Regions from separate parts of the Homo sapiens genome. Here region 2 is linked to region 1. A link means that fine-mapping ties the variant in region 1 to the expression of a gene that starts in the linked region. Tissue or cell type: prefrontal cortex. Region 1 holds a variant in brackets; the other region holds the start of a gene. All regions are shown on one strand. Distances are from middle to middle.

What was found. PIP is the estimated chance that this variant, and not a neighbour inherited with it, causes the effect.
Region 2: MTMR3 starts here. The variant in region 1 is fine-mapped to the expression of MTMR3 in prefrontal cortex (GTEx, PIP above 0.99).

Annotation. Positions count from the first base shown.
Region 1 is chr22:30,265,126-30,273,209 of GRCh38, forward strand. OSM (oncostatin M) reads right to left here and starts at 1,726. Exons shown (of 3, transcript NM_020530.6): 1 at 1,641-1,726; 2 at 1-19. The coding sequence starts at 1,674. RefSeq lists enhancers at 890-969, 1,030-1,129. The variant G/A (reference allele first, on the strand shown) is at 4,139.
Region 2 is chr22:29,879,102-29,887,200 of GRCh38, forward strand. It overlaps MTMR3 (myotubularin related protein 3), which reads left to right and starts at 4,073. Exons shown (of 20, transcript NM_021090.4): 1 at 4,073-4,258. RefSeq lists silencers at 785-884, 3,886-4,055, 4,116-4,615 and an enhancer at 3,879-4,173.

The DNA.
Region 1 (8,084 bases):
AGGAGTGCAAGGACCAGACCTAAGGCAGAGAAGAGGGGTGTCACCTGACTTGGTGAGGAAAGCCACAGATGGGAGCCTCGGGGAGGGGGTTCAAGAGGGCCTTGAAAGGTGCCTCCTTCATCCCAGACTTTGTGTAGTGGAGGGCGGGGGCTGGGCACTGTGTGGCACGGTGTGTGCCCAGGTGTGCCCACCAAGGCCACCATCATCTCCCCAGTAAGTCACTGCCCAGGGCCTGACACAGCAAGCAGTGGGAGGGACTGAGACAGTGGCTGCGATTTACCAAGTAGGTCTTTGAGCAAAGGCTGCAGTGCCTGGCCGGATCCCAGTCCTGCCTACAGCACGGTTCTAACCTCGGGAGCTGACTCTCTGCAAGGTGGGACTGGCTCCCTGCAAGACCACTGGGCTAAAGACCGGCCACTGCCCTAGGACCTGCCTTGTCAGCTGCTCTGGCCATCCAGGTAGATGGGCCTGAGAGGGCTTCAGGGCAGGCAGCCCGGGAGCAGCTTGTGTCCTCAGCTCTGTCTAGAACCAGGAGAGGCTGCCTTTTCAACCAGAGGTGCAGCCTGGAACAGATGTGGAAGACCTTCCAGTCCATGTCCCCACTTTCCTGACAGGTAAACCAAGTCTCAGGAGAAGGTCCTACTCAGGTCACACAAGGCCAGGGCTCTCCCCTGACCTCTCTTGCCTCCCTCCTCTCTCCATAAGTGGCTCCTTCTGTCAGGCCCACCAGGGATGCTGTGAGCCTGTCAGAAGGTGTTGGGGGCGGGTACAGTTACCGCTCACCACCACCCCCAACGGGGCACCGGCAGCCACGTGGTCGGAAGGGGCCTATGGCGCAATGGCCCGGAAGGCAGTGACACCATCGTTCCCGTCCTAAGAACCATCCGGCCCTTTGGGGAAGACTGGCTGTTGGGGAGGGCCAAGGGGCCAGGCACCCAGGCTTAGCGACCCCACGGCACCCTCGCCGCCTCCCCAGGTATCTGCTGCCGGGCTCTGGCAGGGGCCTGTGCCTGTGGCAGCGCACGTGGGACTGGGGTTTCTGTGTGGCTGTGCATCTGGGTCTGTGTGCGGCGTGAGGGAGACCTGTTCCGTTCACCATGGGGACTCTGGTCTGCATGTGGGGGTTCCTGGGCTGGTGAGATCCAGGGCTGTAGATGACGTCATATGGCTGTGTGCGCATGTGGCCATGTGGGTGTGGCTGTGCATGCTGTGTGATTGTGTGGGCCCTGGGGCCCCCAGGCCTGGCTGACTTTCTATTCATCCCGGGCAAGCTGGAGGCCCCACAACCCCTCCACACCTCACACCACTTCCCTGCCCAGCTTCTGAGCCTCCCTCTCCTGCCCAGCCTCTTTGCCCATCCTATTCTCTCACCCCCTGGTTCCCAGAGTTGCCTCTACATCTTGACATCACCTCCCCCTGGAAGCCTTCCAGGGATGCCCCTTCTCTACCTGTGGAGATGCCAGGTTCTCAGTGGACCACTCTCTCTGCCTGACCTCCTGGCTCTCTCCCCTTCTCAGCATCCTTCTGCCTGGCGCCTGGCCTCCCCAGTTCCCGGAGGGCAGAGGGTGCCTCTGCTCCCCACCGGCACCCGTGGGCAGACCCAGCAGGCGGGTTCTGGCGGGGAGGAAGGAAGTACTTACTGAGCAGCGTCCTCTGTGTGAGCAGTACCCCCATGCTGGGTGCCCGTGCTCCGGCCCGCGCCCGCTGGGGGTGACACCTCTCGGCTGGGAGCCCTGCAGGCTGGCAGCCACTTTATGCCCGCTGGGGCGATTGGCCAACACCTCATGAGGTGGGTGGGGATGGGGAGGGGGGAGGGCAGGCCTTCTGGGAACATGACCCCAAAAACCAAAATTTCCACGGGCGGCCAATGGGCGCAGGGCGCGGTGTATGCCCGCTCCTCCTCCTGTTTTCTTCGAATTCGTTCTTCGAGGTCAGCCCTACGCCCAAGGATGATGTAAAACCGCAGCCTCAGCCTTCCTAGGGTGAGTGGGGAGGAAAAGGGTCCATGCCATCTTCAGGGAACTGGGCCAGGGATGGGCAGGAGGGACTTCGAGCTGGGCCTCTGGAGGCCCCAGGCCAGTCTTGGCCCAGGAGCCATTGGCCTCACAGGACACGGTGGTTGGGGGCTGAGGGGAGCGAGACATCTTCCTTCTTGAGTGCCCTTCCTGCCCTCTCGCCGGGGCTGTTGGGACATCTGTGAGCGGAAACCACCGGGCTCTGGGCACAGAGCCAGACGCAGGCTGGCAGCCCCGAGATTGTGGTTCAGGCCCCAGGACCAGCATCCCCCAGCCCGGCTCCCGACGGTCTCCTTTCCCCCATCGTGCACCCTCTGCCAGGCCCACTCCCCAAAGCCAGGCCTTGTCTTTGTAGGCAGGCTCCACTGGGGAGAACTGGACACTTGGAGCAAGAGAAACAGGAGGCCAGGGTTCAAGCCTGCTGAGGTGCTGTGTGACCTGAGGCAAGTCACTTAACCTCTCTGGGCCTCAGAGACCCACAACTATAAAATGAGGAGGAGAAAAGCCTTTCCCAGCCCACCTCACAGGGTTGCTGCCAGCATGGACATAAAAGGAAAAGACCTCTGAAGGAAAAAGCAAAGATGAAGGTCTGATTCCAAGTATTAGCTGTCGAGGGGGCGGGATGGGGGAAGGAGGAGATGGGGAAGCTGTGAGCTCAGAGGGGAAGCCGGGGAGGGGGAGTTGCCGCCTTGACAGTTGGGGACCAGGTTTCACTTTCTCTGAAAGATAGCGATCTTAGGTTGGTCCTCTGCGAAAGGGCCCTGGGAACAGCGCCTCCCTAGTCAAACTGCTACTTTACTGTGGGGTAAACTGAGGCCTGGGTGAAGGCAGACAGGGAGGCCAAGAGGCTGGCCCAGGCCTATAGACCCTGCCTGGTCAGCACATCTCCCAGGCCCAGAGGAGGGTCCTTGGCCTGCACCCTAAGAAGCCCGGGTGGGAGGAGGCCCTCAGGAGTCTGGGGAGTCAGGGTGGGACTCCTGGAGGCTGCCAGGGAGGCCTGAGCTGCTCCAGCTGGAGGGAGCATGGGGTCTGGGGCGCCTGAGCAAGGAGAGCTGGGGCAGCCAGAAAGGAGGAGGTTGGATGCACCCCTGTCCATGCCTGCTCCCGATGCCCACTGTGGCCACCAAGGCAGTTGCCACCCATTCTCCCCATCACTCATTTATTCATTCGACAAACCTTTATTTGGCTCCATGCTGCACCAGCCACTCCCAGGTCTGAGGATCACGTAGTAGGCAAAAATAGGCGACCCCACGCCCAGGAGGCTGCTCTTCAGCCCCTACCCACTCCCCGGCACCCAGGCTGGGACTCACCACACCAGGCCTCATACCTCCCCCTCACCACCCCCAGGGGCCAGTTCTGGATTCTCATCCTGAGAATGTCGCTTCCGCTGAAGTCCTCATCTCTGTGCCCACCCCCACAATGCTGTTTCCTGGGGCCATGCCAAGAGGGGATCCTTCTCCATTTCACATCCCTGATCTCGTCTTTTTTTCTCTTTTTTTAAATGCAGGATCTTGCTCTGTCACCCAGGCTGGAGTGCAGTGGCGCCATTGTAGGTAGCTCACTGTGGCCTCCAGCTCCTAAGCTGAAGCAAGGCTCCCCGCCTTAGTCTCCTGAGTAGCTGAGACCACAGGCATGCATCACTATGCCCAGCTAATTTTTTTATTTTTTGTAGAGACGGGGTGTCACTATGTTGCCCAGGCTGATAACAAACTCCTGGGTTCAAATGATCCTCCTGCCTTGGCCTCCCAAAGTGCTGGGATTGCAAGCGTGAGCCACAGCACCCAGCCACCGATCTCATCCTGCAACAGCCAGGGGAGAGAAGCCGCTGGGCAGTGACACCTCAGCTCACTTCAGTGAGGAGCTCGAAGCTCTGGGAAGTTTAGGGGCTGGCTCAAGGAAGGAGCGCCAGATCTGAGCAGAGGGGTCTAGGCCATTTTCAGCTGTGGCTGACCGACCACCACGCTTGGTGAGAAACAGCCACATGCCTTTATCTTATTCTATCTATCCTGTGGTCCAGGGAGGCCGTGCTGTCTCCTCATGGCAGAGAGAGGAGGTTGCTTTGTCTGAGGTCACCTATGAATAGTTAAGAGGAGAGGGGCATTTGGCCAGGCATGGTGGCTCAC[G/A]CCTGTAATCCCAGCACTTTGGGAGGCCGAGGCAGGAGGGTCATTTGAGCCCAGGACTTCGAGACTGTGTCTTTACAGAAAATGTAAAAATAAATTATCCAGACATCGTAGTGCATACCTGAAGTCCCAGCTACTAGGGAGGTTGAGGCAGGAGGATCGCTCGAGCCCCGAAGGTTGAGGCTGCAGTGAGCCATTATCATGCCACAGGACTCCAGCCTGGGTGACAGAGCAAGGCCCTGTTTAAAAAAAACAAAAAACAAAAAACCCACCAAGAAAAGAAGGCATTCAAACGAGGCCCAAAGACCATACTCTTTGCACATAGTTAATGAGGGTGTCAGGCACAGGGCCCAGGGCTCAGAGTCACTGAAGGTAAGGAGAGCAGGTAGATTACATTGCTAGGACTCCCATAACAAAGTACCACAGACTGGGGGGCTTACGTAACAGAGATTTATTTTCTCACAGTTCTAGAGGCTGAAGTCTGAAATCAAGGGCTGGTTCCCAAGGCCTCTCTCCTTGACTTGTAGATGACTGTCTCTCCCCGTATCTCCACATCATGTTCCTTCTGCTTGTCCGTGGCCTAATCGATTTTTTTTTTTTTTTGAGACAGAGTCTAGCTCCGTCACCCAGGCTGGAGTGCAGTGGCACGATCTCAGCTCACTACAACCTCTGCCACCTGGGTTCAAGCGCTTCTCCTGCCTTAGCCTCCTGAGTAGCTGGGATTACAGGCGTGTGCCACCACGCCAGGCTAATTTTTGTATTTTTAGTAGAGACAGGGTTTCGCCATGTTGTCCAGGCTGATCTCGAACTCCTAACCTCAGGTGATCCACCTGCCTCAGCCTCCCAAAGTGCTGGGATTACAGGAGCGAGCCACCGCGCTTGGCCTTATCTCTTCTTATGAGGACACCATTCACATTGGATTAGGGCCCACTCACATTTTACCTTAATTATTCCTTTTTTTTTTCTTTTTCGAGACAAAGTCTTGCTGTGTTGCCCAGGCTTAAGTGTACAGTGGTGCTTTCATAGCTCACTGCAGCCTTGAACTCCCGGCCTTAAGCGAGCCTCCTGCCTCAGCCTCCAGAGTAGCTGGGATTACAGGTATGTGCTACCACACCTGGCCAATTTTACCTTAATTACTTCTTTTTTTTTTTCTTTTCTTTTTTTTTTTTTTTTGAGATGGAATCTCACTCTGTCACCCACGCTGGAGTGCAGTGGCGCCAGCTTGGCTCACTGCAACCTCTGCCTCCCAGGTTCAAGCAATTCTCTGCCTCAGCCTCCCGAGTAGCTGGGACTACAAGTGCCCACCACCATGCCTGGCTAATTTTTGTATTTTTTTAGTAGAGACGGGGTTTCACCATGTAGGCCAGGCTGGTCTCGAACTCCTGGCCTCAAGTGATCTGCCTGCCATGGCCTCCCAAAGTGCTGGGATTACAGGCGTGAGCTACCGCACCCGGCCCTTAATTACTTCTTTAAAGGCTCAACTTCCAAATACAGTCACGTTCTGACACACGATGGTTAGGACTTCAACACATGAGTTCAGGGAAGACACCATTCAGTCCATGCAGCCTGCAAGAGGAAGGCATAGCTGGAGGGCACAGGGGCTGGGGCCACTGTCGGAGCATCCAGAGTGAAGTGATACACAGGAGGACAGGGAGTGGCTCGGAGGTGAGGAGGCCTGGCCGCTGACCATCCCAGCCAAGCGTGAGGAAAGATGCGTCAGCGTTTCTGGTGAGGTCAGCAATCAGTGACGTCCCTCTCACCAGCAGGAAAAGCTTGCAACATGGCCCAGCCAGTATAAATAGGCTCCCCGACCACAGGACCCGGGCTGTCCCCTCTTCCCGGGCCACGTCAGCCAGGCCCGCGTGATTTGGAGAGGAAGAGAGGACCAGCTTGGTTCCTCAGAACTGCTGCTTCCTCGCTTTCCGGCTTACCCTCTGCTGTGGGGCCCTACGCCTTTAAATGCAAGGATAGGACCTGAGATGGCCTGGCAGGGCCAGGTCGAAACTGGAGGCTGGGGAGAGGTGCTCTGGTGGGGGGAGAGAAGGTGGCCCCCAATCTGCTGGGTGGGAGGTGGAGACCAACCCAAGTTCCATCTCAATCTGCCTGTGAGCCCAGTGTCCCTGGACCAGTCATGTCCCCCTTCTGAGCCTCAGTTTCCTCTTTTTAAACTGCAATGACAACTGAACAACAATGAAAAAGACAAGCAATCCAATTTAAAAATGGGCAAAGGATTTTAATAGACATTTCTCCAAAAAAAAGAAGATATACAAATGGCCAAGAAGCACGTGAAAAGATGCTAAACACCAGGGAAATGCAAATCAAAACCACCATGAGAAGCCATTCCACATTCACTAGGGTGGCTATAATCAAAGGTAGACAATTACAAGTGCTAACGAGGAGATGGAGAGATGAGAACCCTGGGGCATTGCTGGTGGGAATCTACAATGAATGGTGCCACCAAATTGGAAAACAGTTTGGCAGTTCCGCAAATGGTTAAACACAGAGGCCAGAGGCAGTGGCTCACGCCTGTAATCCCAGCACTTTGGGAGGCTGAGGCCGGCAGATCACTTGAGGCCAGGAGTTTGAGACCAGCCTGGCCAACGTAGTGAAACTCCAACTCTACTAAAAGTACAAAAAATTACGCAGGCATGGTAGCACTCGCCGGTAGTCCCAGCTACTCGGGAGACTGAGGCAGGAGAATTGCTTGAACCTGGGAGGCGGAGGTTGCAGTGAGCCAAGATTGTGCCACTACCCTCCAGTCTGGGTGACAGAGTGAGACACTGTCTCAAAAAAAAAAAAAATAAATAGAGATATCATATAACCAACAATTCCACTCCTAGATATACACCCAAGAGAATTGAAAACATAGGCCAGGTGCAGTGGTCAGACCTGTAATCCCAGCACTTTGGGAGGCCAAGATGGGAGGATCACTTGAGCCCAGGAGTTCAAGACCAGCCTGGCCAAAAAAGTGAGACCCCATCTCTACAAAACATTTAAAAATTAGCTGAGCATGGTGGCTTGCACCTGTGTGGTCCCAGCTACTCAGGAAGCTGAGACCGAAAGATCACTTGAGCCTGCGAGGTCAAGGCTGCAGTGAGCCATATTCATACCACTGCACTCCAGCCTGAGTGACAGAGTGAGACTCTGTCTCTGGACAAAAAAAAAAAAGAGGCTGAGCACGGTGGTTCACACCTTTAATCCCAGCACTTTGGGAAGCCAAGGCAGGTGGATCACCTGAGGTCGGGAGTTCAAGACCAGCCTGGCCAACATGGTGAAACTCCATCTCTACTAAAGATACAAAAATTAGCTGGGCATGGTGGCGCACGCCTGTAATCCTAGCTACTCAGGAGACTGAGGCAGGAGAATCACTTGAATCTGGGAGGTGGAAGCTGCAGTGAGCTGAGATCGCGCCTTTGCTCTCTAGCCTGGCAACAAGAGCGAAACGCCAAAAAAAATAAGAAAGAGAGAAAGAGAGAGTGGGAGAGAGGGAGGAAGGAAGGAAACGTACATCCACACAAAAACTTGCAAATGTTCATAGGAGCAATTATTCGGCATAGCCAAAAAGTGGAAGCAACCCAAATGTCTGTCAATAGAAAATGGATAAACAAAATGTGTTCTATCCATACAAAGGAATATTAAGTCACAAAACGGAAGGAAGCATTGCCATGTGCCACAACATGCATGAACCTTGAAACCATGATGCTGCATGAAAGAAGCCAGACACAAAAGGCCACATGTTGTATGATTCTGCTATGGGAAATGTCGGGAATAGGCACATGGAGAGACACAGAGAATACACCAGTGGCTGCTGGGGGCTGGGGCATCCAGGGCTGGGGAGAGACTGCTAATGGGCACGAGGTTTCTTTGGAGGTGATGAAGATATTCTGGAATTACATAGTGGCGATGGTTGCACAACCATGTGAATATACCCAAAACCCCCAAATCATAC
Region 2 (8,099 bases), 390 kb before region 1:
CCTTCCTATAGTGTTGTTGTAAAGATTACATTACCTTTAAATTTTATTTTATTTTATTTATTTCTGAGACAGAGTCTCGCTCTGTCACCCAGGCTGGAGTGCAGAGGCACCATCTTGGCTTACTGCAACCTCTGCCTCCCGGGTTCAAGCAATTTTCCTGAGTAAGCAATTTTCCTCCGGAGTAGCTGGGATTACAGGCACCTGCCACCATGCCTGGCTAATTTTTGTATTTTTAGTAGAGATGGGGTTTCACCATGTTGGCCAGGCTGGTCTCGAACTCCTGACCTCAGGTGATCTGCCCGCCTCGGCCTCCCCAAGTGCTGGGATTACAGGTGTGAGCCACCGTGCCCGGCCTAAGATTACATTAGATATACATGTAAAGTGCTCGTATAGCGCCCGCCACAATTGAAAGGTTCAATCCAGCCAGTTGCAGTGGTGAATACCTCTAGACCCAGTAGGGAAGCCGAGGCAGGAGGGTTGCTGGAGCCGGGGAGTTGGAAGCTGTAGTGTGCTGATATCTGGTCGGTGAATAGCCACTCACTCCAATTCATGTTAGCTATTATGAAAATGAGAAGGTGCAAATAGTGTGATTTCATGGGCATAGAGAAATTCCTCCTATGTCCCAAATACTGGTTGAAGATTCAATTGAAGATTATTTAGCCCAGATTAAAAGGCAAACACGATGACATTCCGTCTAAAAAGAGGTCAAAATTACAAGCCATCTCCTTCGCTCTCCCATGGTGAATTGGGGAGCTGTGGGATTGGTTGAGTGTATGCTGACTGCCTATTGGCAGAACTCTTTGCCCTGTGCCTTCTCATTGGAAGCTAGGTGGCCTATGGGTGGGCTGTCCTGGAGTCAGGTGCTAGCTTCAGTCCAATCAGAGGCCACCAACCTGTGGCAGTTCGTCCTATGGCCTTTCCCTGAGCAGATGACTGGTTAAGGGAATTTCCCTGCGGGGGGGCTTAATGGCTGATGAGAACCTTGGTTTATCAGACAATGGGAAAAACAGGTTGGAAAGTCCTTTTTTTTTTTTTCTTAATTTTTAAAGTTTAAGGCTGGGCGTTGTGGCTTACCCCTGTAATCCCAGCACTTTGGGAGGCGGAGGCAGATGGATCGTTTGAACTCAGGGGTTTGAGACCAGCCTGGGGAACACGGTGAGACACCACCCCCACCCCCCGTCTCTATGAGAAATACAAAAGTTAGCCAGGTGTGGTGGAGCACGCCTGTAGTCCCAGCTTCTCAAGAGGCTGAGGTGGGAGGATGGCTCGAGCCCTGGGAGGTAGAGGTTGCAGTGAGCAGAGATCCAGCCACTGCACTCCAGCCTGGACAACAGAGTGAGACCTTGTCTGAAAATAAAATAAAATATAAAAATAAAAAGAGGCCGGGCACGGTGGCTCATGCCTGTAATCCCAGCACTTTGGGAGGCCGAGACTGGTGGATCACCTGAGGTCGGGAGTTCGAGACCAGCCTGACCAACATGGAGAAACCCCGTCCCTACTAAAAATACAAAAAATTAGCCGGGTGTGGTGGCGTATGCCTGTAATCCCAGCTACTCGGGAGGCTGAGGCAGGAGAGTCGGTTGAACCCGGGAGGCAGAGGTTGCAGTGAGCCAAGTTCCCGCCATTACCCTCCAGCCTGGGCAACAAGAGTGAAACTCTGTCTCAAAAATAAAATAAAATAAAATAAAATAAAAAAACTTTAAATCATTCATCAATTTTAGTATTTACTGTTTCTTCTCCCATTCCATTAAGCCTATAGTCAGTCATAGAACAGAAAGGGAAAATCAGGGCAGCCACATATAAATACAGGTGCAAAGTTGAGGCAGGAGTGGACCCTCAAGGGCCAAGAAGAGGTCATTGCTGAGCTTCACATTTAGCCCTGGGCTTTCTGGAAGCCAGAGTGAAAAGAGAGACACAATCAGATGCGTAACAGTTATCAAAAAGCAGGAAGCACACCGGTTTTTCTGGTAGTAAAGCAAGGGCTTTCCAAGCTTTTAACTCTAAAGTAATTTATTTCGTTCTTTCTTTTTTCTCTCTCTGACACCCAGATTGGAGTGCAGTGGCACAATCAGGGCTCACTGCAACCTCTGCCTCCCAGGCTCAAGCCATTCTCCCACCTCAGCCTCTCAAATAGCTGGGACTACAGGCGTGCACCACCACGCCTGGCCAGTTTTTTGGTATTTTTTGTAGAGATGGGATTTCGCCATGTTGCCTAGGCTGGTCTCGAACTCCTGAGCTCAAGCAATCCACCTGCCTCGGCCTCCTAAAGTGCTGGGATTTCAGGCATGAGCCACTGCGCCCGGCCTAAAGTAATTTCTTACTTGAGATTTTATTTCAGGCTACTGTGTCCATGCACTGGGCAGTACAGCCTGGTGGGTAAGACAGCACAGTATTTTTTTTTTTTTTTTGTCTGCTGGGTTTGAATTTTGTTTTAATACACGCAATTTATTCTGTGCTTCACTTTCTTCATCTGTAATATGGAGATAATGGCATCTACCTATTAAAGTTGTGAAGATTCAATTAGATGAGTTGTATGAATAAATGTTAGCTGTTAGTTTAGTTTCGTTTTTTTGAGACGGAGTCTTGCTCTGTCGCCCAGGCTGGAGTGCGGTGGCGCAGTCTCAGCTCACTGCAACCTCCGCCTCCCGGGTTCAAGTTATTCTCCTGCCTCAGCCTCCCAAGTAGCTGGGATTACAGGCGCCCGCCACCATGCCCAGCTAACTTTTGTATTTTTAGTAGATCCGGGGTTTCACCAAGTTGGCCAGGCTGGTATCGAACACCTGAGTTCAGGTGATCCACTCACCTTGGCCTCCCAAAGTGCTGGGATTACAGGCGTGAGCCCCCGCGCCCAGCCAGCTGTTAGTTAATCAAGAAATTCGACTGCCTACTACTTAACCTGCACAGTTCTAGGTGCTGGGGAAACAGTGACGAACAAGACAAGATCCTTATCTTCAAGTAGCTTTTACATTTTAGTGGAGTAAAATGACAGTAAACATTGAAAATAAATTTCAGAAAGTGCTGTGGAAAAACTTTACAACAGACGCAGGAATAGATTTCATTTGACTAGTTCTCCCAGTTTCCAGAAAAGTCAAGGGTAGAATGTTAAAAGGCAACTCAGAGGAGGTGAATCTGTTAGGGCCTACGGTAATGCAATCCTGGTTTGTGGAATTCTGCAGGCTAGTGTGGGTAGGTTACAATTTTTTGGGGGAGTTGTTTTTTACTTTGTTTGAAAACTCACTTCTTCCCGCTGAGCTTTTGATTAGGAGCTGAAGTTGAATCAGTTTGAAATTGTATTCTGGACCGGATGCGGTGGTTCATGCCTGTAATCCCAGCGCTTTGGGAGGCCGAGGTGGGTGGATTGCTTCAGCCCAGGAGTTTGAGATCAGCCTGGACAAAATGGCAGAAACCTCATCTCTACAAAAAATACAAAATTTAGCCGGGCATGATGTTGTGAGTCTGTAGTCTCAGCTACTCAGGAGGCTGAGGTGTGAGGATCGCTTGAGCCCGGGAGGCAGAGGTTGCAGTGAGCCGAGATGCCACTGCACTCCAGCCTGGGCGACAGAGCCAGACTCTGTCTCAAAAAAAAAAAAAAAAAAAAAAAAAAGAAAAGAAAAGAAAAGAAATTGTATTCTGAATACAACTTCTAAAACACTATATTTACTTGCATTATATTAAACTGGTTTTATCCTGACCACAATTGCAGGTGGAAGATACCACTATTGTTCTATTTTTCTGGTAAGTAGAGTGAGCCATGTCTTGCCCAGGGTTACAGAGCTTGGAAAAGACGCCTCCTAAAAATCTGTAGGACCACCTTTGGTTTTCTTCCAGATTTTTTTTTGTCATCTCTTTTCCTCCACCCATTTCCCATCTGTCTAGCCATTCTTGCTCCGCTGGGCTTTTTCGCGAGCCTCTCCCCAGCTGCAGCCCCGCCCATCTCCTGGGGCGTGACCACCTGTCCAGGCCCCGCCCCCGTCCAACCGGCGGAGACCCGCCCCCTTTCCCGGACACCGGGCTCAGCGCCCGAGCGTGCGCGCGCGTCCTCGCTCGTCGCCCGGCTCGGCGTCGGGAGCGCGCTCTGTGTGGCCGCTGCCGCCATGTTGTTGTGGTTGTGAGAAGGCGGCGGCGGCGGCGGAGTAGCAGCCGGACGAGACGTCCCAGCGGCTCAGGCGCTGCCCAGCGCCGGCCCTGGCAGGGAGCCTGGTGGGGTGGCGGAGGGGGAGACTGTGCCGTGGAGGGCCTCGCCATGTCCTGCTGCCCGGTAAGAACCCCATCCCCGTCCTCCGTCTCCTCGGCGGGTGAGGAAGAGCTGGAGGAGGGGCCGGCCTCGGCCCCGGCCCTGGCCAGGCGGCTGTCACCCTCTGAGGAGGCAGCGCCCTGGGAGGGCTGGGGACTGCGTGCGGGGCCCGGGGAGGGGCGTCCCCGGCGGCTGTCGCCGCCAGGGGGAGGCGCTGGGTGTGGGAGTGGGAATGGGAGCTCGGCGGCCGAGCTCGGCCCGGACCCTAGATGCGGGGGAGGCGGGGTCCCGGGCTCGGGCTGCCTTCCCAGACCTGGCGGGGATGGGCCCGTGCGGCTCTGGGTGTGGGACGTACCCTCGGAGCGCCCGGAGTTATTCCCACGAACTCCCGGGAGGTGGGTGTGCGCCCTTCGCCCCCTGCCGGGTCTGTGGCGGTCCATCGTTGCCGGATACTGGAGGTCAGGGGCCATGGGAGCCCCGGGGCGAACGGTGCGGGCCTGGGCCTTGTGGAAAGGAGGAGTGACCGCCCGATCGTGCAGCAGGGCATCCCCCTGACCTGGTAGTACTTAGGTGGGTAGGATGATTGGGGGCGGTTGGCGTAACTGAGGGAACCCTGGTCAGACTGCTCCGCAAATGATTACAGTGTTATTTCTCCGGTAGTAATTTTGCTTGATGTATGGCATTTCCGGACCCATAAGATGATACTGTAGGTTGTATTTTGGACTGGAAAACTTATGTCAAAATTATGGGGTAGATTTTTTGGCCACATTAATAGACTCCCCTGGAATTTGATAATCTCACTTGTGAGTTTTGGACATGGACTGCTATTACATATTGATGTTCAAATGTCCTTTCCAGACCCAGGCCTAAATTCTTACTGTTGTAGTATCTTGATTCTGACATCTATTTTTCCACAACCCAAACAAACAAAACAAAACAAAACAAAACCCCAAAACCATATACTTTTCTAGTTAAGGTTCAACTTTCTCATATGTGAATGGTAATGCCATAAGAGGCCTGGGTTGAATTACAGGAGATTATTATTATTTTTTTCAATGTGAAATGTTTGTGATTTGTCCATGGAGAGGTGGTGGGGACCTTCCCCTTTCAGATTCAGGGCTGTTCAGTAGGACAGGAGACATTGATGGCATGCAGAAAGTCTTCCCTTTATAGGGCCTATGACTTGGGTAGGCTAGAAGAGCTTACAGAATGACACTTTTTTTTTTTTTTTTTTTTTTTTTTTTTAAGACAGAATCTCTCTCTCCCGCCCAGGCCGGAGTGCAGTAGTGCGATCTCTGCTCACTGCAACCTCCGCCTGCCAGGTTCTAGCAATCCTCCCACCTCAGCCTCCCAAGTAGCTGGGATTACAAGTGTGCGCCACCACGGCTGGCTAATTTTTGTATTTTTAGTAGAGACGGGGATTTCACCATGTTGGCCAGGCTGGCCTGGAACTCTTGACCTCAAGTGATCCGCTTGCGTTGGCCTTCGAAAGTGTTGGGATTATAGGCGTGAGCCACTGCCGCCAGCCAGAATGACACTGTTTTGAGTAAACCCAGTATAGTATGTGATATTAAATTAAATTTGGAGGATTCTAGAATTTTAGATTGGCTGCCTATGAATACCTCTTTTGGCTCCAATTACTCCCTCATTTTCAGGTGACTCAGAGAACTTCAAGTGACCAGCACAGTGGTACAGCCCCGCTTGTCGTTAATGACCAGCCATAAAAAACCCTGAGTTTCTCAGCTCATAGGCCAGGTTCTTCAGTGGTTGTCTAGTTTAAGGCTGGTCATTAGAAATATTATGGACTACCTAAATTCCTCGAACTCATGCAGGACCTGGTGAATTAAAATCTCTGAGGATAGAGCCTGGGGATCTGTCCTTACAAAGCTCCGTGAATGATTCTGGTCAGCAAGGCATGTGAACTTTTGCTTTAGGTTGGGTATTCCAAAGAAGTCCCATTAATTATGACTTCTCAGGGTGCTTTTGTTTATAGATCTTTAAGAATTTAAGAGGTGGAGAAGGGGAAGCATGAGAAACTTAAAGAGATGCAAATTGAGCATCTCTTAAAATATAATGGATTTATGTAGGGGAAACAGATTTGTTGCCAAAAGTTAATTTGCAAACAAGTTATTAGGAACACACTTGATAAAATTAGATGCTGATTAATTGGAGATATACTGTATCCAGAGATATATTGAAGGATCCAGAGGAAATAAACAGAGAAGGAGAGGGAGTAAGTCGGCTTCTGGCTCATAAAGGGGTCCACTGAAGATGCTTCCCACCATTATGGTTGCTCCTAAACCATCTGACTCAGATTTCTAGTGGAGGGTAGGATGGGTGTGTTAGCAATCATTTGAGACCCGGGTTGTGAACCAGGAAGGGTTACTATGTATTGTGAAAAGTTCTTGAGATTTGCCGCAGGCCATGAGGAGTGGTAAAGTCAGTTTAAAAATCTGCTGTAGTTCTAGTTAACACGTTCACACCTTCTTCAGTAAAGTGGAATGCTGTTACCAAAGGAAGTATTCGTGTTTTAGAGGGGGGTGTGGTGAAGGTTCTTACAAGTTTGGAAGAGGTGGAAGAAAATGTTGTTACAATTGTGTAGAGTAGTGAAGGGCTTTGGTAAATATCCTGTCAAATCATAGAGTAGTATTTTTAGAGTTGCACCCAGCTGTCCATTAGAAGAGCCAGAGGCCTTGTCTGTTTTGTTCCCTGGTGTCCCCAGTATCCAGCGCAGTTATCCGCATATTCTGTGCCCTCAGATATTTTTTAATTAAGTGAATACTATTGATATGGGAAAAAGAACAGTTATGGTGGTTTATAGCAGTGTTAGTTATTAAAAGCTACCTGATATTTTGCAATGGATTAAAGAGCCAATTTTTGATCAAATAGGGCTCTGGGTAGGAAAGAAAATGAAAATGAAGAGCCAGCTTTCAGTGCTTATTGTTTGGAATTTTTGAGATTCCTTTAAGAAATTGTTTTCTAAAGACTGTCATGAACATTATCGAGTCCCCTAGTTTTTGAGTCTTAATGAATCTTAAGTGTTTCAGATGTTAGTTACTTTTTTAAGAGCACAGTAAGTGCAAAGGTAGTATAGAATAGTGGGAAGTTCTGGATTGACAGACATATATTCTGATTCCATCTGTGTCATTTATTGCTGTTGGGAATGTCACTTAACTTCTCTGGGCGTCAGTTTTCTCATATATACAATTAAGGGCCTATAGTCTTTGACCTCAAGTAGTTTCTCTAGCCTGATTCTGCAAATTTTTAATCATTTCTAATTATGTTATTTGGTATTCATCTCATATAGGTAGATGAACTTTTATTATTTAAAAGAAACAAGATTCTGTGTTGGGTTCTGCTTTTAGCTTATGGATTTTAGACATTGTCCAAAAGTGCTTCCGATGTTGAATGTATGTTGCAAGTGTTATGTAGAAAGAACATGCTTATGCTGTTGTAATTGGCTTAGTGTTGAAATCAAATTGGGTTTTACATTGGGAACTTCATAATTTAGTGTGAAGTCATGAGACTTGAGAATGGTTTGGGGGGAGTTTGTGCAATTTATATAGCTAGCTGTTTCTTACCACCTAATTCTGTAATTTTCTATGATGAATATATAGATAAATTTATAATCAGTGTAACATTGATTTAAGTTATAAGATGATATCAGATTCATACTGGATTGAACTAGAACTCCCAGTAACTTTAGAGGCTACCAAATTATTAACATGTCATTGCTATTTTTAATCTTAATTTTGTGATATCAATACTGATATGCTTTCATCTTTGCTTTTGTATCTAGAAACAATATACCTTTTAAGTTCATATTTGTATCAGATATTAAAAATGAAAATTGTAGCATGAAAGT